Linked DNA regions of Homo sapiens. The gene in region 1 interacts genetically with each later gene. Each region holds a gene or a part of one and is shown in the gene's direction. Other genes may lie near its edges. The genes, in order: NAMPT, LIG1, DUT and PTPRJ.

The links.
Region 2: changes in NAMPT (region 1) and LIG1 together harm fitness more than expected from each alone (negative genetic interaction), as found in Homo sapiens cells (one large-scale study listed by BioGRID).
Region 3: changes in NAMPT (region 1) and DUT together harm fitness more than expected from each alone (negative genetic interaction), as found in Homo sapiens cells (one large-scale study listed by BioGRID).
Region 4: changes in NAMPT (region 1) and PTPRJ together harm fitness more than expected from each alone (negative genetic interaction), as found in Homo sapiens cells (one large-scale study listed by BioGRID).

What each region holds. Positions count from the first base shown.
Region 1 is NC_000007.14:106,243,482-106,250,922, reverse strand, and holds the end of NAMPT (nicotinamide phosphoribosyltransferase precursor), read left to right. Parts: 3' UTR 1-2,625; downstream 2,626-7,441.
Region 2 is NC_000019.10:48,129,677-48,137,524, reverse strand, and holds part of LIG1 (DNA ligase 1), read left to right. Parts: coding exon 1-3; intron 4-440; coding exon 441-517; intron 518-1,399; coding exon 1,400-1,491; intron 1,492-1,745; coding exon 1,746-1,845; intron 1,846-3,458; coding exon 3,459-3,544; intron 3,545-4,427; coding exon 4,428-4,543; intron 4,544-6,353; coding exon 6,354-6,449; intron 6,450-7,848.
Region 3 is NC_000015.10:48,332,620-48,340,467, forward strand, and holds part of DUT (deoxyuridine 5'-triphosphate nucleotidohydrolase, mitochondrial isoform 1 precursor), read left to right. Parts: intron 1-1,797; coding exon 1,798-1,889; intron 1,890-3,426; coding exon 3,427-3,471; intron 3,472-7,848. UniProt on the Homo sapiens protein: Catalyzes the cleavage of 2'-deoxyuridine 5'-triphosphate (dUTP) into 2'-deoxyuridine 5'-monophosphate (dUMP) and inorganic pyrophosphate and through its action efficiently prevents uracil misincorporation into DNA and at the same time provides dUMP, the substrate for de novo thymidylate biosynthesis.
Region 4 is NC_000011.10:48,168,449-48,175,687, forward strand, and holds the end of PTPRJ (receptor-type tyrosine-protein phosphatase eta isoform 1 precursor), read left to right. Parts: 3' UTR 1-2,391; downstream 2,392-7,239. UniProt on the Homo sapiens protein: Tyrosine phosphatase which dephosphorylates or contributes to the dephosphorylation of CTNND1, FLT3, PDGFRB, MET, KDR, LYN, SRC, MAPK1, MAPK3, EGFR, TJP1, OCLN, PIK3R1 and PIK3R2. Plays a role in cell adhesion, migration, proliferation and differentiation.

The sequences.
Region 1 (7,441 bases):
AAATTAGGAAATGCATTTAACCATGTAAAAGATGAGTGCTAAAGTAAGCTTTTTAGGGCCCTTTGCCAATAGGTAGTCATTCAATCTGGTATTGATCTTTTCACAAATAACAGAACTGAGAAACTTTTATATATAACTGATGATCACATAAAACAGATTTGCATAAAATTACCATGATTGCTTTATGTTTATATTTAACTTGTATTTTTGTACAAACAAGATTGTGTAAGATATATTTGAAGTTTCAGTGATTTAACAGTCTTTCCAACTTTTCATGATTTTTATGAGCACAGACTTTCAAGAAAATACTTGAAAATAAATTACATTGCCTTTTGTCCATTAATCAGCAAATAAAACATGGCCTTAACAAAGTTGTTTGTGTTATTGTACAATTTGAAAATTATGTCGGGACATACCCTATAGAATTACTAACCTTACTGCCCCTTGTAGAATATGTATTAATCATTCTACATTAAAGAAAATAATGGTTCTTACTGGAATGTCTAGGCACTGTACAGTTATTATATATCTTGGTTGTTGTATTGTACCAGTGAAATGCCAAATTTGAAAGGCCTGTACTGCAATTTTATATGTCAGAGATTGCCTGTGGCTCTAATATGCACCTCAAGATTTTAAGGAGATAATGTTTTTAGAGAGAATTTCTGCTTCCACTATAGAATATATACATAAATGTAAAATACTTACAAAAGTGGAAGTAGTGTATTTTAAAGTAATTACACTTCTGAATTTATTTTTCATATTCTATAGTTGGTATGACTTAAATGAATTACTGGAGTGGGTAGTGAGTGTACTTAAATGTTTCAATTCTGTTATATTTTTTATTAAGTTTTTAAAAAATTAAATTGGATATTAAATTGTATGGACATCATTTATTAATTTTAAACTGAATGCCCTCAATAAGTAATACTGAAGCACATTCTTAAATGAAGATAAATTATCTCCAATGAAAAGCATGACATGTGTTTCAATAGAAGAATCTTAAGTTGGCTAAATTCAAAGTGCTTGACATCAAAATGTTCTAGAGTGATTAGCTACTAGATTCTGAATCATACATCACATCTGACTAGAGACCAGTTTCTTTCGAATGATTCTTTTATGTATGTAGATCTGTTCTTCTGAGGCAGCGGTTGGCCAACTATAGCCCAAAGGCCAAATTTGGACTTCTTTTTATAAATGCAGATTGTCTATGGCTGCTTTCCCACTACTCCAGCCTAAGGTAAACAGCTGCAATAGAAGCCAAATGAGAATCGCAAAGCCCAAAATGTTTATTAACCTGCCCTTTACACAAAATTACACAAAAAGTTTCCTGATCTCTGTTCTAAGAAAAGGAGTGTGCCTTGCATTTAAAAGGAAATGTTGGTTTCTAGGGAAGGGAGGAGGCTAAATAATTGATACGGAATTTTCCTCTTTTGTCTTCTTTTTTCTCACTTAAGAATCCGATACTGGAAGACTGATTTAGAAAAGTTTTTAACATGACATTAAATGTGAAATTTTAAAAATTGAAAAGCCATAAATCATCTGTTTTAAATAGTTACATGAGAAAATGATCACTAGAATAACCTAATTAGAAGTGTTATCTTCATTAAATGTTTTTTGTAAGTGGTATTAGAAAGAATATGTTTTTCAGATGGTTCTTTAAACATGTAGTGAGAACAATAAGCATTATTCACTTTTAGTAAGTCTTCTGTAATCCATGATATAAAATAATTTTAAAATGATTTTTTAATGTATTTGAGTAAAGATGAGTAGTATTAAGAAAAACACACATTTCTTCACAAAATGTGCTAAGGGGCGTGTAAAGAATCAAAAGAAACTATTACCAATAATAGTTTTGATAATCACCCATAATTTTGTGTTTAAACATTGAAATTATAGTACAGACAGTATTCTCTGTGTTCTGTGAATTTCAGCAGCTTCAGAATAGAGTTTAATTTAGAAATTTGCAGTGAAAAAAGCTATCTCTTTGTTCACAACCATAAATCAGGAGATGGAGATTAATTCTATTGGCTCTTAGTCACTTGGAACTGATTAATTCTGACTTTCTGTCACTAAGCACTTGGTATTTGGCCATCTCCATTCTGAGCACCAAACGGTTAACACGAATGTCCACTAGAACTCTGCTGTGTGTCACCCTTAAATCAGTCTAAATCTTCCAGACAAAAGCAAATGGCATTTATGGATTTAAGTCATTAGATTTTCAACTGACATTAATTAATCCCTCTTGATTGATTATATCATCAAGTATTTATATCTTAAATAGGAGGTAGGATTTCTGTGTTAAGACTCTTATTTGTACCCTATAATTAAAGTAAAATGTTTTTTATGAGTATCCCTTGTTTTCCCTTCTTAAATTGTTATCAAACAATTTTTATAATGAAATCTATCTTGGAAAATTAGAAAGAAAAATGGCAAGGTATTTATTGTTCTGTTTGCCATAATTTAGAACTCACACTTAAGTATTTTGTAGTTTTACATTCCTTTTTAACCCATTCAGTGGAGAATGTCAGCTTTTCTCCCAAGTTGTATGTTAAGTCTATTCTAATATGTACTCAACATCAAGTTATAAACATGTAATAAACATGGAAATAAAGTTTAGCTCTATTAGTGAAGTGTTAAATTTGTGTGCTTCAAGTAATGCCATTTTCAGGCCTACCTGTTTTAAGTATTCCTCCAGTTCAAAGAATTAGAAGATGAGAGAAGGGCAAGTGTCAGAGTTGACTCCTTTTCTGCTTTGTGCAACTGTATAGATGACAGTGCCTTTTACTAAGGAAGAACACTGGAGGGACATCAGATTTGAGAGGAAAGAGCACGATTCCCGTGTTAAGGCTTGAGACGCCTTTGACATATCTAAATGTAGGTATTAAGTAGGCAGTTGATGATACAGGTTTGTGGACAGAAGGGCCTCAAGGTATGACTGATGTATACCTTGGAAGGTATACATCTTTGGAAGCACACAGTAAAGGATACTCTTCTAGGGATAGTATAGAGCAGGAGTTGGCAAACCCCACGCCATGAGCCAAATCCAGCCCACCATCTGTTTTTGTAAATAACTGTATTGGAACATAGCCACACCCATTTATTTAGTTACTGCCTTTGGCTGTTTTCTTGCCACAGTGGCAACACTGATTAGTTGCAACAGAGAAATTATGGCTGTAAAAACTAAAATAGTTTACTGTGAGGCCCTTCACAGGAAAAGTGTGCTGATCTCTGCTAGAGTATAAAGAGAATCTAGGGCTAAACCATGAGTAACTCTTGAAGGTTAAGTGGCAGAACATGAGCAGACCAAATGACAAGCATAGCTAAAGAGATGAAAGTTCCAACCAGAAGGAGTGAAGTCACAAAAGCCAGAGGAAACATTTTTCAGCCCAGCTGTTGAATGCTGCTGAGAGATCAAATAGGATGAAGAATTTAAAACAGCTACTGGATTTAGCCACCTGGAAATAATTGGTGCCTTAGACACATTCCTTTCCAGGTAGTAGAAGAGGCTTATTTCTGAAAGAAGCTCCCTTATATACCTCTTTGAATGTGGGTTGCGAAAAGGGAGGAGAGAATGAGGCAATAGTATCTTTGTCCTTCTAGCTGTAGCCTTACATCTGAAAAAGGTCCAGGAAAGAGGGAGGAGTTGAAAATAAAAGCAAAAAGACATCAGTGATGATTTGGGGTTCCAGAGAAGGTGGAGAAAGGTAAGATCCAAAGCACTTGGTAGGGTATTGGCCTTGAATGATAGGGGTCCTTCTAGAAGAAAGGAGAAGATGGAAGCAGGTGTGTACTTTGGTTTTCTACAAAGTCGGAGGCCAGATCCCACTTGTACGTGGTTTATTACTCATTCATTTATGTTCACCCCAGAGAAGCGCCATTTTTCATGGTTAGCAGCAGAATTCAGTTAGAAACACAGTTATCCTGACCTGCTTTATATATTTTTTAAATTCCGTAATTGGCTACTGAGCTGTTATTTCTTTGACATAAACTAGGCAATGCATTATAACAAACTATCTCTCAGACCACAGTGCAATCAAACTAGAACTCAGGATTAAGAATCTCACTCAAAGCCGCTCAACTACATGGAAACTGAACAACCTGCTCCTGAACGACTACTGGGTACATAACGAAATGAAGGCAGAAATAAAGATGTTCTTTGAAACCAACGAGAACAAAGACACAACATACCAGAATCTCTGGGACGCATTCAAAGCAGTGTGTAGAGGGAAAATTATAGCACTAAATGCCCACAAGAGAAAGCAGGAAAGATCCAAAATTGACACCCTAACATCACAATTAAAAGAACTAGAAAAGCAAGAGCAAACACATTCAAAAGCTAGCAGAAGGCAAGAAATAACTAAAATCAGAGCAGAACTGAAGGAAATAGAGACACGAAAAACCCTTCAAAAAATCAATGAATCCAGGAGCTGGTTTTTTGAAAGGATCAACAAAATTGATAGACCGCTAGCAAGACTAATAAAGAAAAAAAGAGAGGAGAATCAAATAGACACAATAAAAAATGATAAAGGGGATATCACCACCGATCCCACAGAAATACAAACTACCATCAGAGAATACTACAAACACCTCTACGCAAATAAACTGGAAAATCTAGAAGAAATGGATACATTCCTCGACACATACACTCTCCCAAGACTAAACCAGGAAGAAGTTGAATCTCTGAATAGACCAATAACAGGAGCTGAAATTGTGGCAATAATCAATAGTTTACCAACCAAAAAGAGTCCAGGACCAGATGGATTCACAACCGAATTCTACCAGAGGTACAAGGAGGAACTGGTACCATTCCTTCTGAAACTATTCCAATCAATAGAAAAAGAGGGAATCCTCCCTAACTCATTTTATGAGGCCAGCATCATTCTGATAGCAAAGCCGGGCAGAGACACAACCAAAAAAGAGAATTTTAGACCAATATCCTTGATGAACATTGATGCAAAAATCCTCAATAAAATACTGGCAAACCGAATCCAGCAGCACATCAAAAAGCTTATCCACCATGATCAAGTGGGCCTCATCCCTGGGATGCAAGGCTGGTTCAATATACGCAAATCAATAAATGTAATCCAGCATATAAACAGAGCCAAAGACAAAAACCACATGATTATCTCAATAGATGCAGAAAAAGCCTTTGACAAAATTCAACAACCCTTCATGCTAAAAACTCTCAATAAATTAGGTATTGATGGGACGTATTTCAAAATAATAAGAGCTATCTATGACAAACCCACAGCCAATATCATACTGAATGGGCAAAAACTGGAAGCATTCCCTTTGAAAACTGGCACAAGACAGGGATGCCCTCTCTCACCACTCCTATTCAACATAGTGTTGGAAGTTCTGGCCAGGGCAATCAGGCAGGAGAAGGAAATAAAGGGTATTCAATTAGGAAAAGAGGAAGTCAAATTGTCCCTGTTTGCAGACGACATGATTGTTTATCTAGAAAACCCCATTGTCTCAGCCCAAAATCTCCTTAAGCTGATAAGCAACTTCAGCAAAGTCTCAGGATACAAAATCAATGTACAAAAATCACAAGCATTCTTATACACCAACAACAGACAAACAGAGAGCCAAATCATGAGTGAACTCCCATTCACAACTGCTTCAAAGAGAATAAAATACCTAGGAATCCAACTTACAAGGGATGTGAAGGACCTCTTCAAGGAGAACTACAAACCACTGCTCAAGGAAATAAAAGAGGATACAAACAAATGGAAGAACATTCCATGCTCATGGGTAGGAAGAATCAATATCGTGAAAATGGCCATACTGCCCAAGGTAATTTACAGATTCAATGCCATCCCCATCAAGCTACCAATGACTTTCTTCACAGAATTGGAAAAAACTACTTTAAAGTTCATATGGAACCAAAAAAGAGCCTGCATCGCCAAGTCAATCCTAAGCCAAAAGAACAAAGCTGGAGGCATCACACTACCTGACTTCAAACTATACTACAAGGCTACAGTAACCAAAACAGCATGGTACTGGTCCCAAAACAGAGATACAGATCAATGGAACAGAACAGAGCCCTCAGAAATAACGCCGCATACCTACAACTATCTGATCTTTGACAAACCTGAGAAAAGCAATGGGGAAAGGATTCCCTATTTAATAAACGGTGCTGGGAAAACTGGCTAGCCATATGTAGAAAGCTGAAACTGGATCCCTTCCTTACACCTTATACAAAAATCAATTCAAGATGGATTAAAGATTTAAACGTTAGACCTAAAACCATAAAAACCCTAGAAGAAAACCTAGGCATTACCATTCAGGACATAGGCATGGGCATTTTGTAATTTTTATAGAGATGGATTAACGATCTCGCTTACAAACTCTCTTGAATTGGCTACACGTTTAATTCTGATTAGGTCTTCCTGACTCGCCAGAGTTGTTCTGCCAGATCTCTGAGCCTCTCGCTTTCCAGCCCTTCCTCTTCAGCTAACAAACATGTTCCTTTTTCTCACACCTTTTTTAAAGAACTCCCTTGATAACACCAGCTCTAGCCTCCCTTCTCCCATTTACATCAGACTTCTCTCCATTTACTGCCTCACCTCCCATTCAGTTATCTTCCATCTGGTTCTCACCTCTTATTGGACAAAGCAGTGACCTTCTAATTGCCAAATGAATAAATTTTGTTATTACATTATCTGAGGGCTCTCCTGCATTTGCCACTACTAAGAATTCATTTCTTTACTACTTTGTTCTATGATCTTTTGGGGTCTTCTAATCCCTGTGGACTGTCCCTTCTCTCTCGGTCTGTTTTTCACACATTTTTAAATGTTGACACATCCCATTTATCTCCATGTTCATCTTGGCTGATGTCAGCCATTCACGTGGTGTCAGCTATGAGCTATCTACTACAGCCTCCACACATTTATGTCTCCAGCCCAGACTTCTAAATCATTCTACCTGTCACTGATACATTTCCACTCAGATGCAACAAATCCAAGCTTACCATATTCCCCCAGAACTTACTATATTTATTTTGATTCTCTCATTTGGCAGCTCAGGCAGCCCCCAACATGAAACTTCCCTCTCCATTACCCTATACATTTAATCGGCCACATAATCCTATTGATTTACCTACTAAATAACATTATAATCTGTGTCTTCTCTCCAACTCTTATTTCAGAATCTCAAATTTCTTCCTGAAGTACAGGCTGAGCATCCCAGATCCAAAATCTGAAATGCTCCAGAACATGGAATAAAGTCTTGTATGCCTACATGACACTCAAAGTAAATGTCCTTAGAAGCATTTTGGATTTCAGATTTTCAAATTAGGGATGCTCAGCCAGTAAGTAAATGCAAATATTCCAAAATCTGAAATCTAAAACACTTCTGGTCCCAAGCATTTCAGAAAGTAATTTCTGTATTACTCAACTTGTAATCAGAAATTATCTAATTAGTTTTCCTAACTCCAATC
Region 2 (7,848 bases), on another chromosome or scaffold:
GCTGTGAGTGGGGCGGGCCGCTCATCCCGGACCCCAGACATCTTGGGGACCTGAGGCCACGCGTGTGTCAGGAAGGCTTCTGGGTAGACCATCAGCTGGGTCGCATCAGTCCTTCTCATGGGGTGCACAGCTTCCTCTCCTCCTTCCTGCACCCAATCCTAGGGGAGTCTCCTCTTCAGAGTCTAGCAGACCTAATGCCATGGCTGCCACATGACAGGACTCAGTAAATACTTCCTGGATAAAGGGAGAGGGAGGCAAGGAGGAGAGCTAGCTCGTTCTTACTGCCCTAAGAGTGGGCGGCCATGGGAGCTGGGACATGGGGATGGGGTGAGGGAAGGAGGGCAGGTATTCCAAAATGCAGGGCAGCAGCACGGCTGGTGGGGTGGAGGTGTGGTCCCTGCCTTCACCAGGCACTGACGGCTCTTCCCCTGACTCTCCAGTCCACAGCCAAGAAGATAGACATCATCAAAGGCCTCTTTGTGGCCTGCCGCCACTCAGAAGCCCGGTTCATCGCTAGGTAAGCGTGTGGGCCTGTGAGGCTACAGAGGGGGACTGCAGGCTCGGAGGTGAAAGGAGGGAGGGACTGGCAGCTGGAATCATCACAAATGCCCTGACCATCCTTGGATGAGAAAAGCATGAGCAGGAGGCCCAGCCCCTAAAGAGTGGGAAGGGACACCATTTCCTTTCACAGGCCAGCTTCTGTCCCTTGGTAGTGCTGTCTAGAGAAGGCCCCTGGGCCCCTGTGGGTGAAGCATGCTGTGATTGATTGGTGAGGTCTGCCTCGGCTTGGGCGCGGGCCCTGCAGCAGGAAGCCAGGGTTTGTTTGCCATGACAGTGAGAGCAAATCCATTGAGGGCTCACATCATGGAGCATTTCTTGGGAGCCCTGCCCTGTGCCCCGTGCCTTACCTCATCAGTTCCTACCAGCAACTCTGTGAGACTGGTCTTGTTACCCTCACCTCCAGTTTATAGAAGGGGAAATGGAGACATGGGGAGGCAAACTAAGCCACTTGTCTCCTGCCACTGGCTCAAAGCAAGGACCATGCTGGGGTCCTGACCATTACAGTCACCAGGGCGGGCGCCAGGCTCAGTTCTCTCCCTGACTCATCCTCCTCAAGCCTCGCCAACCCCTCAGGGCAGCTGAGATGGGAGGTGCTGGTGCACCTACTTGTGCCCCTCCCCAGTCTATGCTAGTGGGCAGGATCATTACTGCCTGGCTCAGTTTCCTCATCTGTCACATGGGGCTGTGTGATATCTGGGGTCCCTTCCAGGCTCTGAAGATTCTTCTGGTTTTTGAGGAGAGGGTCTACATACATCAAGGTCGAGGAGATCAGAGAAGGGAGGAGGCAAGATTGGGGAGGTGCAGACAAGCCCCCTTCCCTGGCCTGCTCTCTCCCCAGGTCCCTGAGCGGACGGCTGCGCCTTGGGCTGGCAGAGCAGTCGGTGCTGGCTGCCCTCTCCCAGGCAGTGAGCCTCACGCCCCCGGGCCAAGGTGAGCTCCTGTGGCCCGTCTCTGCATCCCTCGCTGGAGTTACCTCAGGCTTCCCCCCTCCTCTTCAGAGGCCCATGCCCGCCCCTTCCCCAGCGGGCCCCTGCCATACCAGGCTCCTCTCTCCTGGGTGGGGGGGAGGGGGCGTCTTGGGCCGCGGCATCTGCATTCCTTGCCATACAGCAAACCACCCACTGCACCCTGGTGTAGCCAAGGATGTGGGTGCCTTCCAAAGCCTCTGGTGGGTCTTTTCTTAGAATTCCCACCAGCCATGGTGGATGCTGGGAAGGGCAAGACAGCAGAGGCCAGAAAGACGTGGCTGGAGGAGCAAGGCATGATCCTGAAGCAGACGTTCTGGTGAGAGCTGGGCAGTGGGTGGAGTTGCCAGGGGCTGTGGGCAGAGTGCCAGGGTGGGGGTGGAGCCAGAGGAGCAGTGGGTGGGGCCAGTGAAGTGACGGACAGGCATCACGAGTGCCGGTCACGGGGTGACTGAGAGCAGAGGTGGTGATCTAGACAAGGCTGGTGCTTGACACAAGGATGGTGACAAAGATCAGGAAGGTGGCAAACAGTGAAGGGTCAGTGACCCCAGGAGAGGTATAGAAAGACGCTGGCAGCGGCCAGGCACAGTGGCTCACGCCTGTAATCCCAGCACTTGGGAGCCTGAAGCAGGCAGATCACTTGAGGTCAGGAGTTTGAGACCAGCCTGGCCAACATGGTGAAACCCTGTCTCTACTAAAAATACAAAAATTAGCCTGTAATCCCAGCTACTTGGGAAACTGAGGCACAAGAATCATTTGAACCCAGGAGTTGGAGGCTGCAGTGAGCTGAGATCACGCCACTGCGTTCCAGCCTGGGCAACAGAGTGAGACTGTCTTAAAAAAAAGAAAGACGCTGACAGCAAGGGAGGGCAGCCGGCAACATGAGGTTTCTGAGTGCCAGACAGGGCTGTGCATGCAGAAAGGCCTTAAGGGACCCAGAGAGGAGCAGGTGACTGACACATGGTGAAGGGTCTTGACAGTCATGGAGAGGACATCCGTGGAGCGGCCACGAGGGCTCCAGAGAGAGCCATGTGGAGGGACCTAGGCCAGCAGCTGACCCAGGGCTGGTGACTCCAAGATCATGACTGCCCCAGAGAGGATGTCAGAGGCAGGAGGGCCGATGGCAGTTCCACAGATGGCCTCAGAGCACCTGCTCTGGGCCAGGGCCCCCCACTGGGTGCTGAGCAGAGAGTGGTGAACAGGCCCGGGCAGCAAGCTCAACTCTGCCTGCACGTGGGGCTCTATCAGCTGCTGACCTCAGGCCTACCCCACACCAGCTACATCAAAATCTTTGTAGGTGGAACCTAGCCTTGAAAACCTTTGTCTATTTTTATTTTGTTTGAGACGGAGTCTCGCCCTGTCATCCAGGCTGGAGTGCAGCAGCACAATCTCAGCTCACTGCAACTTCCGCCTCCAGGGTTCAAGTGATTCTCCTGCCTCAGTCTCCTGAGTAGCTGGGACTACAGGCGCGTGCCACCACCCCCAGCTAACTTTTATATTTTTAGTAAAGATGGGATTTCACCATGTTGGCTAGGCTGGTCTTGAACTCCTGGGCTCAAGTGATGCACCCACCTCGGCCTCCCAAAGTGCTGGGATTACATGCCTGTAGGCATGAGCCACCATGCCCGGCCAAAAACCTTTTTTTAAAAACTGTATTCTTGAGTGGTCTCCTGTGTAGCCGAGTAGAGAATCGCTGGTCTCGTGGTGACAGATAGGGAACAGGGGCAAGGCCAGACTAAGGGAGACAAAGCAACAGATAGTGACACGAAGGGAGAGCACAGAGACAGGGTGGCAAGAGGAGCTTGGCAGGTGGTGACTCAGTGGGCAGAGGCATCCAGGAGCCCAGGCTTCTGGGAGCAGGCCGAGCTCTCTTTCCAAACTGTGTGAGTTCTAGAAAGGCTTCCCCTATCTTGTTCTCACCCGCCACCCCAGCGAGGTTCCCGACCTGGACCGAATTATCCCCGTGCTGCTGGAGCACGGCCTGGAACGTCTCCCGGAGCACTGCAAGCTGAGCCCAGGTACAGGCCCCAGGGGCGCTCACCAGCCTGGCAGCAGCCCTGCTCCCTCCTGAGTCGGCGTGAGGGTGGCCATCGTAGGCGCCCCTCTCAGAACTTGCAGAGTCCTCTCCCCCACCAAAACCAAATGCTCCTCCCTGGTGCTGAAACCCACTGCTTTTCTCCTTGGAATTTCCCCTTGTGGAGTAGATAGGGTGTAGGTGACACTGCTGTGATAAACAGGAGCCGGGCGTGGTGGCGTGTGCCTGTGATCCCAGCTACTCGGGAGGCTGAGGTGGGAGGATCGCTTGAGCCCAGGAGTTCAAGGCTGCAGTGAGCCGTCATCGCGCTACTGCACTCCAGCTGGGCGACAGAGTGAGACAATAAATAAGTAAATAAAAATGGGCCAGAAGGCAGTGGGTCAGGCCAGATAGAATTTCTTTCTGTCACACAGAAGTGTCCAGAGCAAGGGAGGTGGCCAGGGAAGGTACAGGTGTGCAGCTGTGTCCCAGGGATGACCCGGGGACCCAGGTTCCTGTGTCCCTCTGCCCTCCAAAGGTTGTCACCCCAATGTCTGTGATCAAATGTGGCTCACTTCCCTGTTCTAATTGTGGGAGGAGGGACGCAGAGGAGGGAGGGGAGGCAACCAGATTCCTTGCAAGGATGTGAGCCAGACATTGCACATGCTGCGTGGGTTCCAATCACATGGCCTTTCCCACCTGGAAGGAAGGCCGGGGGCTGTAGTCCCCAGTGGGAGGCTAGGTCCCCTTCTAAAACGTGGGAGGCTTCGTGACTGAATAGCAAGAAAGCAGAATGGTCCTGGGGCCCATTAGCAGTTCTCCTCTCCATGTTCCCCCTCTAATCCATTGCCTTCCCTCTCCTCTAACTCACTCTCCTCCTTTCCCAGGGATTCCCCTGAAACCAATGTTGGCCCATCCCACCCGGGGCATCAGCGAGGTCCTGAAACGCTTTGAGGAGGCAGCTTTCACCTGCGAATACAAATATGACGGGCAGAGGGCACAGGTATGGGGAGTGGGACATGTCCCTTCCACAGACAGGAAAACGTCAAAGAGCAGGGGTGTGGGGTCACTGAGGCCTGAGCTTCAAGCCGGCCTGCGCCACAGACTGCCGAGCCCTCGCTCATCTCTCTGGGCTTCAGCATCCACCTCCATGCAGTGAGTGTGTTCTTTTTTTTTTTTTTTTTTTTTTTTTTTGAGACAGAGTCTCACTCTGTCATCCAGGCTGGAGTGCATTGGCATGATCTTGGCTCACTGTAACCTCCACCTCCTGGCTTCAAGTGATTCTCCTGCCTCAGCCTCCCAAGTAGCTGGGACTACAGGCGCCCGCTACCGTGCCCGGCTAATTTTTTGTATTTTTAGTAGAGACGAGGTTTCACCATGTTGGCCAAGATGGTCTCGATCTCTTGACCTCATGATCCACCCACCTCAGCCTCCCAAAGTGCTGGGATTACAGGCATGAACCATCGTGCCTGGCCTCTAGGGTGTGGTCTTAACTACCTCACCAGCTTATCCGAAGCTACAATCCTCCAGAGTCCTGACCGATGATAGTGGGAGCTCATGAAACGTGGGCTCCGCTGATGCTGCTGGTGGGTGTGTTCATTTTAACAGCCGTTCTGGGAGGTGCCTACATGACCCCTTCATGCCGTGACGTGCATGTGTGTCCTGTGATCCAGGGCCTCAGGCGTCCTTGGTCCTGGGGTCTGTAAGAATGTGTTGTGTCTCTTCTGTCCTGGCAAGTGTGGGGCCTTCTCACCTGGGGATAGGTAAGCAGGCAAAGTGGGTGGGAGCCACAGGGCTCGGGGCAGTTACAGGAAGTGGACCCCTGAGGAGACCAGCCTGGCCAACATGGTGAAACCCCATCTCTACTAAAACCACAAAAATGAGCCAGTGTGGTGGCGTGTGCCTGTAGTCCCAGCTACTCGGGAGGCTGAGGCAGGAGAATTGCTTGAACCCAGGAGGCAGAGGGTGCAGTGAGCCAAGATCGTGCCACTACACTACAGCCTCCACGATAAGAGTGAGACTCCATCTTTTAAAAAAAAAAAAAAAAAAAGGGTGGATCCAACAGACACAGGATCAGAGATGGATCTCCAAAATAGTGTTGAGAAAAAAGACACAAGATGATTTACGATAGTGACAATGATTTCTTGACAACTGTTCCTGGAAATAATAACAAACATATAAGATGCTATATATGCCGCCCTGCTCAAGGGCTGTGACCGGACTGTCTTAAAATAAATAGACATAGAGGCTGGGCGCAGTGGCTCACGCCTGTAATCCCAGCACTTTGGGAGGCTAAGGTGGGCGGATCACCTGAGGTCGAAAGTTCAAGACCAGCCTGGCTCTACTAAAAATACAAAAATTAGCCAGGTGTGGTGGTGGGCGCCTGTAATCCCAGCTCCTTGGGAGGCTGAGGCGGAAGGCTCTCTTGAACCCGGGAGGTGGAGGTTGCATTGAGCAGAGATTGCACCACTGCTCTCCAGCCTGGGCGAGACTCCGCCTCAAAAAAAAATCAGAATGAGATCTAGAGCATAATGACATTTAAACAAATCAGCACCCACATGCAGCAAGGTGCATGTGCCTACATGGGGAGAGGTGTAGGGATTGGAAATGAAGAAGAAAATGATGGTAGGGCCTTCCAGAGCAGGGCTGGGAGGTGCTGTTGGAACTGAGGAGATGATTCGCTCAAGTCTCTGCACCAGTTCCTCCTCCAGAGCTTCCAGAACCTTCTACCAGTGCAGGTGGGGTCAGAAGAGAAAGCTGAGGCCACATGAGGGGACTCAGCTGATTTCCCCTCCCTTCTCCCATCGTGACAGATCCACGCCCTGGAAGGCGGGGAGGTGAAGATCTTCAGCAGGAATCAGGAAGACAACACTGGGAAGTACCCGGACATCATCAGCCGCATCCCCAAGGTGGGCGTCTGCCACACACTTGCACTCTGCCAGGGTCTGTGGTCAGGGGTGCAAAGGCCTGAGGCCCATCTAGGCCAGTGTGGCACAGTGCGGGGTTTATTGGGAGGAGATCAGGTTGCGTTTGGCTGCAAATGACAGAGCACTCAGTCCTGCGTGGTGTAAGCCCATATGATTTTTTCTCACATCTAGAGGTGGGCACCCCAGCACCGACTTGGCTGAGCACTGATGTCCCCCTGAACCAAGCTTATCGCTACCTCTATCCCCTGCTGTCCTTGGCTGGTTGGCTTTTAGTGCCAATGCTTGTCCCCTTAGAGTTTCCCAAACAGATGTCATTCTTCCAGACAGAAAGAGGGAAAAGGGATTCTAGCTTGAGTTAACACTTTCCTGGACACCTCCCACCCACAACCCCTCCCCCGCCGTGGACTGCAGCTGGGAGTCACTGTCCAGCACTGGGTTCCATGGCCACCCTAGTGCAACAAAGCCTCGGAAAGCCAGAGTCTAACTCTGCAGCCTCTCCAGCCAGGAACGCGGGGAGGAGGAGTCAGGACGAGTTTGGAGGGGGCCAGCCTGTGGATAGGCCCCAAGCCTCAGAAATAGCAGCTCAGAGTCATACAGGGCTGGGCCTCACAGGCCCCAGAGTTGGGGACTTCTCTGCACCCAGTAGGGGTCTCGTGCCTGTTCGAGGAGTCCCCTATCAAAGAGCCTTTCTCTTTGCCTGCCCCTAATTAAATAGGAAATAAGTTATTTAAGAAAGCAGGGGGCACGGTGCCCATCATTCTGCCTGTTAGAGACAGTGACAGAGAGAGGCACAGTTCAGTGCACGTGTTAGGGGAGCTCCTGTTCCGTGCCAAGCACTGTTCTTTAAATCAATTTTCTTAAGATGTAATTTCCCTAAAAGTTAGTGATTTTCAGTGTGCACTATGCTGTTTGATGAGTTTTGAAAAGTTCATACACCCAAGTAACCGACACCCCAATGAATGTATAAAATATTTCCACATTCTCATCATTCTAACATATTTCCGCTGGGCGCAGTGGCCCACGCCTGTAATCCCAGCACTTTGGGAGGCTGAGGCGGGTGGATCACCTGAGGTCAGGAGTTCAAGACCAGCCTGGCTGACATGGTGAAATCCCATCTCTACTAAAAATACAAAAATTAGCTGGGTGTGGTGGCACGCACCTGTAGTCCCAGCTACTTGGGAGGCTGAGGCACGAGAATCGTTTGTACCCAGGAGGCGGAGGTTGCAGTGAGCTGAGATCGGGCCACTGTACTCTAGCCTGGGTGACAGTAAGACTCCATCTCAAAAAAATAAAAATAAAAAATCAAATATTTCCTTGTGTCCCTGGCCAAGCAAGGCCCCCTCCTCTGTCCAACACCATGCATCCACCAGAGGCAACCCCA
Region 3 (7,848 bases), on another chromosome or scaffold:
AGCAAGGCGTTACTTTGCAACGTTTATTGTGCCCTTCCTAAATAGAAGATAGAGAGGAAGGCCCATGGTGGCTTTCGAGTGGCCCGAGGGTGATGCTGTGCTCAATAGAAAAACCAAGGTGAGAGCCTAGATGTGAGCGTGAAAATACCTAAGAAGGATGAACGAAGATGCATCTGCCTTAAAAAGTTATTTTCTATACATTCATCCGGCCCAGGGCGGAATTTGAGAAGGCATCTGAAAACGAAAGGCAGAGCTGCCTGTAATCTACCACACTTTCATCTCTACAGCACGTTTTACCTGTACTAAAAACTTTCCGTATGCTGTTGTATTTAGTCCTCACAACAATCCTTAACTAGATAAGTGTTACTTTTTACACAGGCAGGAGTTTGTGAAGAGCTGAATTGATTTCCCCAGAGGCTTGAAGATGATATAATTTTTTATCCCGAATTTTGGGCTTTTTTTTTTTCATCTGACTACTGTGCCCAGTTCTTAGAACCATTAAGGTAGGAGAAAAGTAATGCTGAGAGGGAAGGAGATTTTATACTAAATCCCAAGCATTGGGATTTATTTTAAAGTATCTCAGATAATTCAAACATGAGAACTATTAGTCTAAGCACAGGAGAAGAGAAAGTAGTGCCTGATGATAGCAACAGAAAAAAAAGGAAAAGGAAAGTAGGTATGGACAATTGTAGCTGGAAAAACTACAGTCTCTTAATTTTGATGAATAAAAGTAGAGTGATATAGTTTGACTAGACCTTTCCAAAGTATATTTTGGAGCACTTTCTTGAGTCCTAGGGGAGTCCTTGATTTAAGATACCTTAAGTAGACTCCTAATAAACACAGGTGACTTTCTGTATACTGAAATTGACATGGAAATAATGGATCAGCAATAAATTAGGGCTTAACTGTTTAAAGAGGGATTTCAGTGAAAGAAGGGGTAGTACTGCTTTACCAGAGTTAATTAAGGTCTCCAAAGTAAACTTCCGGTTCTGCTCATTGTAAAATCTCTTAAATTTCTACCCAGGAGAGGGCCACAGTAATATCAAGAGTAGCAGCATTTGCTATGTGGACTTTAGAGGAATTCTGTTCCTAAGCAAGGTCCATCTCCAGGGGCCGTTCACGGTGATCAGCTGTCTCCCTCAGCCAGGAAATTCATAGCCTAAGCTTGGTAAACTACCAAGCCCTGCCTGACAGATACAACACAGTTCTTTATCTCTTATTTTGTCCACCCGTTTTTCTCCTTTCCTTCTGCATATTTTCCCTAATCACACAGATCATTGTGAGAATAAAATGGGTTAATATATGTAAACCAATTAGAACTGTTCCTGGCACACAGTAAAGGCTTAATCAATGATAGCTAGTATTATTAGTAGTATTTGGCCTTTTTTCTTTGTTCTTTCTTCATTTTTTTCCTTTTCAAACTATGGTTGTAAAGCATCCACCTTTTGAAAGTTTGCCTTTCTGCCCTTTCACGCTGATAAGTACCTCAGTTTCCAATAAACTTTTGTTCAGGGGCAAACATTTACAATGTTGACATCTCTTCACACCACCAAAAATATTCATGGAGAATTATTTTATCTAAAGCTGTCTTTTTAATAATAAAATAGCCACCTCTACCTTCTTCATAAACTTTTAAGATGAATTGGTAATTCATCATAGCAAGGTTGATTTTAGAAACTAAAGTTGCATTAATTCATTAAATACACTGAAAGTAATTTTGTATGCTTGGTCACAAAGAAAATATAAAAACAATTTTATAAATAGATTTGCAGTTATTTTCTTTCAATATTTTCTTAGTGCCTATGATTACACAATACCACCTATGGAGAAAGCTGTTGTGAAAACGGACATTCAGATAGCGCTCCCTTCTGGGTGTTATGGAAGAGTGGGTAAGTCATTTAAGAAACAGGTAACTATTTGTCAAGTTCTCCTTTGTGATAGATTCTTCATGTTTCATTTGGGGTAATAAGCAGGCAATATTGCTTGGGCTGTGTCCTAAAAGAAGCACCATTTGTGATAGCAAATGCACTCTTTGAAAGGCTTTATTTACATCTCTGCTTTGCCTCTTTTTGACCCTTTTATTTTTCTCCTTCCTCACTGGAGCTTTTAGGCTCACACTGGCCTAGAAGGCTGTTCTCAGAACATGGCATTTTATATTATGAGAGTAAAACTTCTGACCTGTTGGTCCCAGAATGTGTAAGCCTACTTAACCTTTTCTTGTTTGGCCATGGGGTTAGGGTAAGGGATACTCTTCAGTGTTGTAGAGGCACTGGGAGGAGCTAGGACAAAATGGAGTACACGTCAACAGGTTTGATTTTTCTGGAGCGGATCAGTTGTTACCAGACAGTTCTTTGCAAGAGCGTAAGTTCTTTTTGACTAACTTCAGAGTAAACATAAAGGAGGCAATGGAGCTGTGACGCCCTCCTCCAGGGAAAGGAGCTAGACTGGCACTATATTATTAGCCATGAGTGAGGAAACTGCCAGTACTTCAGCCCTTAAAAGATAACAAGATGGGCTCTCATCTCATCTCTTGAGCATCATTGACTCCATTTTTTAGAATTTTTTCAGGGGAAGGGGCAGGAGATGGAGTGAAATAAAGGTTAGTACAGAAAGAGGCAGCATTATTGACAAAGTGCCTGATTTAAATTATTCTAAAATAAAATGCTGGAAGTTAGGATAATTAATTATAGGCCTGATGCTTGAGTCTGCAATAATAAGGTGTAACCTTAGCTTTTTATTTTTTTCATTTTTTAGGATTAAAAAGTATACTAGCATTGAATCATTGAGACTTAGTTTTTGGCATTTTTACTTAACTGATATTAGCCCATTTATCTTACTCTGGTTCATGTGTTTCCTACAGGCATGTCTTTTGGCATCTGAATCATGAATAGTGGGGTCCCAAGTTGTAGGCTATGGTCTGCTACTATTTGGTTAGGTTTGTTTCCCTCTCCCTTCCTCTTCCTTTCCCTTCCCATCTGCATTGTACATGTTGTGGTGTCCCATCTTAAAACCAAAGTCTTCTTCCTCAGTAGTGTGTTCCTGCTGGCCATACTTCTCTTTCTTCCCCTTTGAGGCTTAACTTCTTGAAAGAGCAGCCTACAGTTGTTCCCGCTTGCTCACCTTTCAGCTCATTCTAGCAGTCCTTCTCCCCTGTCTGCAGCACCACAAATTCTGACTGAAGTCACATGGGAGTGGTTTAAGTTAGTTTTGAATTAAAACCTTGTGGAATTTTTCTAAACTAGTCTTTCCAACTTTGGTAATGCAGTATGATGAATATATATTCTTTAATTCAAAACCATGTGCTAAAGTTAAGATGAAGATATAGATATTATAGGTGAAGAGAATGACATGCTTAAATTGCATCAGTTATCTCTGATATAGCCCTTCCCCCTTAAAATAACCAATGTCTCCTTTTTTGTTTTTTAGCTCCACGGTCAGGCTTGGCTGCAAAACACTTTATTGATGTAGGAGGTAATATATTTCCTTTTTTATTCTGTAAATGTTTGCAAGTATTTACTTTGTCTTTAAAAGGTAATATTCAAATGACAGATTTTATTTTTAAGAAAAGAAAATGATTAGAGGAAAGCTTGTTATAATAGGAGGAAAAGCTTTGTGGTTATTTTAAGTAATTATATTTTGTTTAACTACTAACTTAATTTTTAAAATAATGATTACCTAATTAATAATGACAGATTTAATGATATAATAATTAAGTAATTATTTAAGCAACAAAAGTTCTAGAAAACACAGGTCTATCTTGTAAGAATTTTCTTCATAAGAGAGCTATCTGTCTTTAGCAAAATTTAAGAAGAAAATCTTTCCCTGAAGTCAGGAGAGAAAACACTTTTCTCTAAATTTGTTAAGACAGTCCTCTGTGTTACCTGTTTCCCTTATAATAAAGCCTTTCTCATGTTTGTCTCAAAGTTAACCCTACCTCATGTGGTACCTTTCATGAAGAACCCTCAGTGTCCTCTGCTAACTACTCTTGATACAGAGCTACTCCTCTTATTGTAAGGAAATTTCTACTTTCCTGATGTGGTTTCCTTGTTTCAGGTCCGCTCCAACTGGGATTCAGACCCCACTTATGTGGTCCTTACATACTGACCCTTTATCCCATCAGTAGTGAATCTTTCACTTAACAAGATACCTTGGCCCCCACATAAGTAGGTGTGCTAGATCTCCTCCTCCACCCGTTTTTACAGAGCTGCTTTATGGAGGCTTGTTAACAGATCAGGAAAACTGGCTTAGAAATGAGCCCACATGGATATGTGGTAAAAACTGGAGTCTCTGTGTGATTCCAGCCTCCTTGTTCTTTCCACTGCAATTAATTGTGGAGATTACCCTGCTGCATCCCCCTCACCAACTAAACACGTCCAGAATTAGCTCACTTTTATGTGCCACTGCAAGGGCTAACTAAGCACTTAATGAAACCTGGCTATCCTAGACCTGCCCCTTAGTCTAACATTTGGTGGGTGTGGTGTCTCTCCATAGTGTCACCAGGTGGTGCTGTGGGACAAGACAGGACCCCAAAAGTACACCCTTTAGGGACTAAAGGGGAGCTGAGTTTTACATAGCAGGGTGGACATTGACAGCCCACTCTTGGGTTGAGGATTCCTTGGGCTCTGTAAGTTATGCCCGATGTTCAAAAATGCTTTTACAAGGTCAACTGTGGTCATTTTGGGACAGTAACTTAAGGATATAAATAATTGTATATATTTTCAATGAAGTTTCAAATGATTGTTCAAGGAACGGGAGCTTTGGAATAACAACTGGATGTAGGTCCCAGCTCTGTCATTAACTAGTTATTACTTAACCTTTCTGAGCCTGTTTCCTCATTTTACAATGGAAATTAGTGTGCCTGCCTCTAGAGGTAGGAGGATTAAATGATAATGTGTATGAAATACCTAATATAGTACTTGGCACATATTAGATTCTGTGAGATATAATTTCTGTCCTTAGGGACTTCACAGATTGTTTTTATGTGGAAACTTTTTCTTTTATTCGACTTTGTTACTAATTTTTGCTCTGTTTAAAACAACTTTCTGGAAAAAAATTCATGTAAAAGAATGGAAAGTTAGTTTGCCTAGTGGTTGGTATGGTGTTATTCATAAAATCACATTGTGGTGTGTTCTTGGATGCAGAGAATCTTAACAATCTCCCTTAGGCACAAGTTTATCATAGTTGGCAACAGTTTTTATTTCTGAAGAGAGATGTTGTTAGAAATCCCAGGCTCTAAATAAGGGTCAAAGGGAAAAGTTGAGCATTCAGGATTCTGTTCAGAATTCACATCTGGTAGGTGTGGATAGTTTTTCACTAAAAAAGGTTTCCAACAAATGACATGCCAAACTCTTGACACAGTAAAACTTTTGCCTGAAGTCAGTTAATCACTCTGCCAGTTCCAATGCATGATTTTTCCAGTGATAACTTCAAGTTACTTTCTGCTTTCTCTGAGGAGAAATATCCCTGATACTTATATCCTGTAGGCAGAGAAGGCTTTTCTTGGAGGTCGAATGGCAATTGGGTGGTAAATGAATTTGGAACTACTGAAATTTTTATACCGTCAACATTCATGCAAAAAAAAAAACTATTGAGGGCCTTTTTTTCTGCCATACATTTGAATTGACTTCAAACTTCTTAATTTCTTTTAGTCACTTAAAGGTTTTTCACATTTTCGTGGCCCAAGCATAAAGATCACCTATCTGCAGGATTCAAGACACCCAATCATTTGAGTAGTTCTGATAGGACTGCTTTACAGATACGTTAGCAGAGGCCTTTCAAAAAGGGAGTGTTTTTGTATGTTAGAAGATACTATAAAGCCAACAAGCAAATATTTGCAACTTATATGAAAAAGAACAAATGAGAAAAAAACATACACAAAATATAGACAAGGACATGCAAATGTCCAACAAATGGGAGGAAAAAAATCCAGCCTCACTAGTCATCAGGGAATGAAAAGTAAGGCAATGAGATAGCCATTTTGTACTCATCATATTGGCCAGAATGTAAGAGATTGTTGCCATCAAATATTGGCAAGGATTTTGGAAATGGGCATTCTCAAATATTGCTGATGGAAGTTTGAGTGGCTACACCTTTTTTGCAACCTATTTGATGAAAATAAAAAGCATTCATATACAAGGATATACTTAAAGGGCTGCTTCATTTATTATAGCAAAATGTAAAAGCAGCCTGTGTCTGATATTATGCAAGAGAATAGTTACATAGAAACAATGGTACAGGTTGGGCGTTGTGGCTCATGCCTGTAATCCCAGCACTTTGGGAGGCTGAGACAGGCAGATTGCTTGAGCCCAGGAGTTTGAGGCTTATTTGAGCAACATAGGGATACTTTCTCTCTACAAGAAATACAAAAATTAGCCAGGTGTGGTGGTGCCTTTGTACCTGGAGGCTGAGGTGGGAGAATCACTTGAGGTTGAGGCTATAGTGAGTTGTGATCATACCACTATACTCCTGCCTGGGCTATAAGAGTGAGACCCTGCCAAAAAAAGAAAGAGAAGGAGAGAGAGAACCCATATTTCCATATCTTGTATCTAAAAAGAATGGCTAACATTTACATATATTAATCTCAAAGGATAAAAAGAAAAAAATAAAGTAGTATGTAAGATATATTTCTGTAACATTAGCTATCTCAGGGAGGGTAAGAGAATATTATAAGCTTTTACTTTATATGTATTTGTATTGTTTTAGTTATTTAAAAATTTTTGAATAAAGTAGAAACAATAGTTCAGAAGTCAGTCCATGTCTTTCTCTAACTCATTCAAGATAGATGAATTATTAGCTTGTACCTCAAAATCTCCCAGCATGGAAGTTCTCTAGCCTACTGTGGCCATTTTTTCTAGCATGGAACAACATGCTATGTTGAGGGATTTCTTCATTAAATCTAATTTAAATTGTCCCTGCAGTCAAAATTTTTTCCATATAGATAATATGGAAAACAGCTGGTTTCATCTTTATATCAAATTTTTTCATAAATATTAAGGTGTAAATTAATGGTCAACTGACGGTGGAGAAATAAAGCAGGGTTTGGTATTGGAATTGGTCAAGTTCAATAATGGATTGTTTCCTTCAGGCCCGACAGGAGATGAACTGCCTTTGCTGCTTTTCTGCCCAGTTTTATACTCACTCTTCTCGTAAAAGTGTTGCATCAGGAACCTTTTAAGAAGTGCTTAAATTCAGATTCACTTGTCCCTAGTAATTCATTCATAAAGCACAGGGGTTCATTTAAACGTATGTTGTAATCCATTCGGAAAATCTAAAATGTTGTTTTTGCTGAATATTTTTCCCCGTGGTGGACCTAAGGGTTTGCTTTTTTCCCCCCATTATATGAGAAAATTGAAAGGATATGCTTAGGAATTACCCTTGTTCTTAAAAAATGGGGGGTGGGTATGCTTTGGGGTTTTTTTGTCTGTTTTCTCAGCTTTCAAATAATGAGGAGTATGGGCAAATAGCATTACTGCCCATTGAGCTGAACACAGGATTATTTTTATTTCCATATTTTTTCCTTCATCAGGGCTTTTGTTTGGGGTAGAGTATTAATAACAAGTAAGATGTGACATGGAGCTGTCTTCAGTTAGATTCACGTGAGTCTTATCCAGCCTTTCACAAACTGAGGAGAAAGAATTAACGTGTATAGCAGGAAATTGGGGGTGGGAGGAGGAAGGGGAGTGACTGCTAATAAGGTAGGGGATTTTTGGAGGGAGGGTAATGTAAATGTGCTATAATTGACTGTGACGATAGTTGGCCAACTCTGATACACTATGAACTGTGGAATTGTAACACTTCAAATGGATAAATTGTATGCTTTGTGAATTATTTATCAATATAAAAAAATGA
Region 4 (7,239 bases), on another chromosome or scaffold:
AATTCAGTGTCAGATTAATCCCTCCTTCCCCAAAGTCCACTGGCTTTCGTCTCTCTCTGCCGTGACACATATCGGAATCTACTGTGTATATATATATATATATATATATATATATATATATATATATATATATACACTAAGCTCTCAAAAACAGTCATTCCTATGAATTGAGGTGTACAAAGTTTGAATTTGTATCAAAGATGTAATTATTATTTTTAAAACCTTTTCACTATACTGCTGCTGTAATTACTTTGATTTTTAAAATGTAGATTAATTTTTTTTTTTTTGCTTCAGGTGTGTATCCACCAAGAATTTCAAATTTATGTGGATTTATTTTATTGGTACATAATCTGTAAACTTCTTAAGGCATTAACATGAAAAGATTTTTTCTTTTTATTTTATATTGTGGCTCAGGTTATATTTTGAAGATGTTTTGAGTTTATCCTCCAATAGGCAATGAAGTTGACAAGGTTTTATGAAGGAATAACCAAGTCCCTGGAGTCCTGTGGCTGTTGCCACAGTAATGTGTCCTGCTGTAAACAGGACAGGTGTGTCCTGTTGAGAATGTGAGCGGGCTCTTCCAGCCTCCTGGTCCCTCCTGACTCTGCCACGCCCCTCACCTCACTGGCACTTCGATAACTGACTGGACGTGTTAATGGGTCTTTTAGGGTTCTAAAGGGTGAACCACACTTTTAAAGCCCCGGCTGTGGTTCGGAGGGTTAGTGCTGTATGCCTTTTATTTCCCTTTCCCTTTGAGGTACTGAAAGGATGAAAAGGTGGTGTCATGTTTTGGGGAGAATCTTACTTCTCAAATGGAAATTGCACTTTTTGCTGAATCCTTTGCATTTTTTTGGTAGTAAGCAGTTCATTGAGTATCAGGTCCTCAAAGGAATGAGTTGGCCCGGCTAGGGTGGGCCCTCTTGACCTAACTTCAGAGGGGGCCTTGGCTCAGTAGGTGTGAATCAGGGAAGCCACATTGTCCTCAGGGTGCTGTATGAAGCTGGGTGTGGGCGGATTCCTCCCACACCTTCACACTGGCCTGCCTCCAACTCATACAGATCTCGGAGCGGTCGGTACTTCATTCATAGGTCCCTGTTCAGGCAGCAGTTCTGTGGGCTGTGGCCCTCTCCCCTCCAATATGTCCGAAACCATTGTGATGGGTGGCAAATCCCAGGGAGCTCCTAAGCCCTGCTCTGCCCACATCACTGCCACAGAGAAGTCAGAGGAAGGGACTTGTTGCTAAAAAATCCTTTAAAAGGTTAAATACTTTAAAAGATTAAAGCAACATAACTGTAAACATATTGTATAAAAATGAAAAACACAGGAACCCTCTTCCCTTCCGCCTGGTGTGGGCTTGGGAAATGGGCAAGCGGCCCCAGCAATCATGGGAGGAACTCTTGCGGGGGAGCGGTCTGGGATTCCAAATGGGCAGGTCACACGAAGGTCACGATGCTTCTCTGCATCCTGAAAAGGGCTGGGGACAGGGCCAGTGGGGGTGGTAAGGGTATTTATAGCACAGTGCTTGAAAAGGGAAGATTAATGTGTAAATATAAAGGACACACAGGCTGGGGGTTGGTCAGAGGCAAGAGGAGGGTGCCTCTGAGCTTCAACCCCTCCCAGGAACAATGAGCTCAAATTGGAAGAGTCCAGTGGAATCGGGGGGATGGTGTGAGCACCCCTGTTCAGTCTTTGACAATTGCATACAGAAAAGCAGCTGGTATGGGTTTGGGTGTCAATGAAAGGGCCAAAGACTGGTGGCCAGCTGGTTTGGGGGATTTGGGCCATTGATAGCATCTCCCAGGAACAACGACTTTTTGCCTCCAAAGTTGGATCTAGTGATGATCAGCACCAGCAGGAAATGACATTTGGTGTCTGCCCACTGCAGCCATACTGTGACCTCCAGCCAGACTTCCGCCTAATTGACTCCACTGGATTTGTGCTCTGTTGAGTCAGAGGCTCCCGGGGGTTGGGGATCGAGGGGCGGGGGTCAGCTATGCAGCCCATCACGTGTGTTTTTCATCTGGGATGAAAAAGCCTGGTTCTCTTTTGAAATGCTTGATTGTACTTATTGAGCTAAACAAGTCTTGGTGACTGTTGTTGATTTGCCTCAAAAGTTTTAAGTCCTGGGTTTTCAGACTACTGTGTAGCAGCTGTGTGTTTAACATACTGTAGCTTTTTCTCCCTTGGGGGCACATACAAATAGGATGTGTTGATGTGGACTCTAAACTGTAATTTTCCTGTAACTATTTTGGAATGATGCATATTTCTAATGTTTGTTATACTTGTACAGAGTATTGCTGTTGGTTGCTTTTTTTTTTTTTAAGGAAAAAATGGCCTGAAAACATTTTTTTAAAGACTTACAAATACCAAATATAAAAAAATGTCAATGCATTATGCCTTTGCTTCTTTCTTTCTTCTTTTTTCCTTCTTACAATGTGCCAAGCAGTTTACTGGCCTGCATTTTACTTGGGCATCCTTAACAAAAACACATTTCTCTTTGGGATTTCCGGATTGTTTTAGTTTTCTAGGGCTGTTGTAACAAGTACCACCAACTGGTGGTTTAAACAGCAGAGATTTACTTCCTACAATTTTGGTGGCTGAAATCCAGATGTGGGCAGGGTTGGTTTCCTGTGAGGCCTTTTTTTTTTTTCTTTTTTTGAGACAGAGTCTCACTCTGTTGCTCAGAGTGGAGTGCAGAGGCGTGATCTCAGCTCACTGCAACCTCTGCCTCCTGGGTTCAAGCAGTTCTCCTGCCCCAGCCTTCAGGCGCCTCTCTTCGTAGCTTGCAGATGGCTGTCTTCTCCCCATGCCTCCACATGGTCTTCCCTCTGCTTGTCTGTGTCCTAATCTCCTTCTTTTTTTTTTTTTTTTGAGATGGAGCCTTGTTCTGTCGCCCAGGCTGGAGTGCAGTGGCATGATCTTGGCTCACTGCAACCTCTGCTTCTCGGGCTCAAGCGATTCTCCTGCCTCAACCTCCCGAGTAGTTGGGACTACAGGTGCCTGCCACCACACCCAGCTAATTTTTTTGTATTTTTAATAGAGACAGGGTTTCACCATGTTGGTCAGGCTGGTGTCGAACTCCTGACCTCGTGATCCACCCGCCTTGTCCTCCCAAAGTGCTGGGATTACAGGCGTGAGCCACCGCTCCCGGCTAATCTTATAAGGACACGAGTCATACTGGATCAGGGCCCACCCTATTGACCTAATTTTACCTTAATTACCTCTTCAAAGACACTCCAAATGTAGTCAAATTCTGTTTTAGTGGGGGTTAGGACTTGACCATATGAGTTTTGGAAGGGACCCAGTTCAGCCTGTAACACATATTCAGGGCAATTTAGTGAAGAGGAGGCTTGGAGGAAGTGGCTGTGTGTCTTAAGATTGTGTGTGTTCCCAGAAGGTTGGAGGTATGAGCCTGCAGGTGGATGGATACCCAGTTGGTTGGGGGTGTGTTATGATATAGTTAGCTCTCCTGGGCTTTCTGCTTAGGGACAGCGCTTGGGCTGCGGATAAAGTATCCATCATCTTCCTGTTTTGATTCAGGCCAAAGTTGTCCCAGAACTTTTCTGCCCACAGTGTTGGTTTAGAGGAGGCAGGGAGACACTGTATTGCTGACCTGTTATCTGCATACTTAAAAAAAAAACAAACCAAACTAGGCTACCCTGCAAAATAGCACAGCATTCTCTGCTCCTAGCACTTAGTTTGATAAAAACTACCTTACCCAGGTATAGCCTAGGAATTGAGATATTGTGGGAAAGAAAAACCGAATGATCACCTGTGGTTTTATAAAATGTAAAGCTTAAGTGAGAAAACAAATTCATAGAACTATAAACAGAGAACAATCCCAATAAGAATTAAATAAGTGCATAGAAGAAAAGAAACACAACTCTAGAATAATATAATAGTGGGATTAGGAGTGGATTTTATTTTTATATTCACCTGTTTATAGTTTCTAACTTCTCCCAATGAATATGGAGTACTTAAGAGTAACTAGTTTAAAACTTAGCACTTTTCCCTCCTTGCCTCAAAAAAGTGAAGCTACAGTATAGTTTTAAATTTACTAGTCAAGTTACAAAATTCTTTTTTTTTTTTTTTTTTTTTTTTTGGAGACAGAGTCTCGCTCTGTCACCCAGGCTGGAGTGCAGTGGCACGATCTTGGCTCACTGCAAGCTCCGCCTCCCAGGTTCACGCCATTCTCCTGCCTCAGCCTCCCTAGTAGCTGGGATTACAGGCGCCCGCCACCATGCCCGGCTAATTTTTTTGTATTTTTAGTAGAGATGGGGTTTCACCGTGTTAGCCAGGATGGTCTCCATCTCCTGACCTTGTGATCCGCCCGCCTCGGCCTCCCAAAGTGCTGGGATTACAGGCGTGAGCCACGACGCCCGGCCAAGCTTCCAAGTTCTGATAGCCATCCCATCCCTTCTGGGGTTTCACAGCTCTATTTGGGGCTGAACGTGGCAGATCTCTGGGGCCTCCAACATGAGAGCCTGGGCTTTACATTCCTGCAGGCAGGTGAAGCCTCCTGACCCAAAAGGTGAGTAGTGGGCCCCTGTTGGGGCCAGCAGTTTTGGATGATGCCACTAGATGGCGGCAGAGAACTGGGCTGTGGAAGCAATCCTTGGCTAGGCTGTGGCAGGGCAGTGGAGCACATAGGATTGGAAAAGAAACCAGGAGGTCCGTAAGGCAAGGCTAAAAACCAGCAACAGGGCGAAGGAAGCGCCCTTGCCAGCAGCTGGCAGCTTTCCGTATAATTTGTTAGATAATATGTTCATGGTAAAAAAATTTAGGAAAAGAAGGAAAATAAAAAAATCCTATGTTGTCACCATTCAACAAGATGTCCCCCAATAATCCTCCCGCCTGGTATTCACATTTTTGTGTAGCCCCTCCTCCACTGTAGCAGGGTTGGTCTGTGTGACTGGTAGATTGCAGAGAGGTGATGGCATCCCACTTCTGAGATAAAACTGTGCAGTTTCTCTCTCGCTGTCTCTCTCCCTCCAGCCCCCCTCCCACGGCACTCTCTCCAAAACCAGCTGGCATGTTCTGAGCAGCCTTGAGAGAGGCCCACGTGGTGGGCTTCTTCTGAACCTCCTGCCAACAGCTACATGAGTGGGCCTGGAAGCAGATTCTCAGGTCAGCCTTTGGATGACAGTAGCCCTGGCCGACAGCTTGACTGCAGCCTCCTGGGAGACCCCAAGCCAGAACCTACCCAGACTCCCTGACTTGCAGAAAGCATCTGAGATGATAAATGTTTACTGTTTCAAACTGCTCTGTTTTGGGATAATTTGTTACACAGCAAGAGATAACTAATATGGGCTAATATATCCCACCACATAGGAAATACCACTGTTAACATTTTACTGTAAATAATTCTGTAACCTTTAGAATTCTCACAAACACCACACACACACACCCCCCATATGTGCACACATGCATACATCTTCATCTTCATGTATTTGCTTTCATCTTTTTGCAAAACTGGAATCAAACATGTTCATATTTCTTTTTAAGATTAACATATTTCTTTGAGTAATATTTCTACTGAAGCGTAATACAGACAGAAAAATGCACTAATCATAGGTTGGCTGTTTGAATAATTGTCCAAAAATGAACACACCCATATAACCAGCACCCAAATTAAAAAGTATATACGACCAGCATGCCATAAGCCACCTTGGTGCCCCCTTTCAGCCACACCCTGGCAAAGCTAACCACTATCCTGGCTGCTAACCTTTTAAGTTGGTTCTGTGCTCAATTTTTTGAAACTTGCTTCTTTTTTAAAATTAAAAATTTTTATTTTTAGAGACGAGGTCTCACTCTGTCATGCAGGCTGCAGTGCAGTGGCACTGTAATGGCTCACCGTAGCCTCAGACTCCTGGACTCAAGTGATCCTCTCACCTCAGCCTCCTGAGTAGCTGGGACTACAGGTGCGTGCCACCACACCTGGCTAATGAAACTTGCTTTTTTTTTTTTTGAGACAGAGTTTCGCTCTTGTCACCCAGGCTGGAGTGCGATGGTATGATCTTGGCTCACTGCAACCTCTGCCTTCCGGGTTCAAGCAATTCTTCTGTCTCAGCCTCCCAAGTACCTGGGACTATAGGCATGTGCCACCATGCCTGGCTAATTTTTTTGTATTTTTAGCAAAGACAGCGTTTCACTGTGTTGGCCATGCTGGTCTTGAACTCTTGACCTCAGGTGATCCGCCCACCTCAGCCTCCCAAAGTGTTGGGATTACAGGCCTGAGCCACCGTGCCTGGCTGAAACTTGCTTTTTATACTTGACATATTGTGAACTCTTTCTGTGTTATTAGGTATTCATCCTGTTCACCATTTTAAGAGCTGCATAATACTCCATAGTATGGACACATACCACTCTCGAGTTAACTACTCTTTTATTGATTGCCATTAGATTATTTCTGATTTTACTCTCCTGTGAATAAGGATGTGGCATCTATCACAGTAGCCAGATCTTTGCAGACATCACAATTAATTTCTTAGTAAACTTTTCTATAAAATTAATGAATCGAAATATATAAAAAGGTAGGGCTTTAGGCTGGTCGTGGTGGCTGATGCCTGTAATTCCAGCACTTTGGGAGGCCAAGGCAGGTGGATTGCCTGAGCTCAGGAGTTTGAGACCAGCCTGGGCAACAAGGCAAAACGTCATCTCTACCAAAAAATACAAAAAATTAGCCGAGTGTGGTGGCACATGCATGTTGTCCCAGTTGCTTGGGAGGCTGAAGTGGGGGGGATCACTTGAGCCTGGGAGGCAGGTTGTGCCAAGATTGTGTCACTGCACTCTAACTTGGGTGACAGAGTGAGATCCTATCTCAAAAAAGAAAAAAAGGTAACGCTTAGATGAAATTCTGCTAAATTTTTCTCTAGATAGCAATTTACACTCTCATTATAGTGTGTGAGAATGCCTGTTTCTTTACAGCTTCATCCACAATGAACATTATAATAATGAACACCCCGCCCCCCTCCTTTTGTAACTTGAATAGGCAAATGAAAAAGAAGCAAACTGTGCTAGGCCTTTCTTGGATTGCTGTAAAGAAACACCACCTGAGACTGTTTAATTGATAAAGAAAAGAGGTTTTAGTTTGGCTCATGGCTCTGCAGGCTATACAGGAAGTGTGGTGCTGGCATCTGCTTCTAGTGAGGGCCTCAGGAAGCTACAATCACGGAGGAGGGTGACCGGGAGCCAGCATGTCACATGGCAAGGGCAGGAGCAAGAAAGAGAGGGTGACAG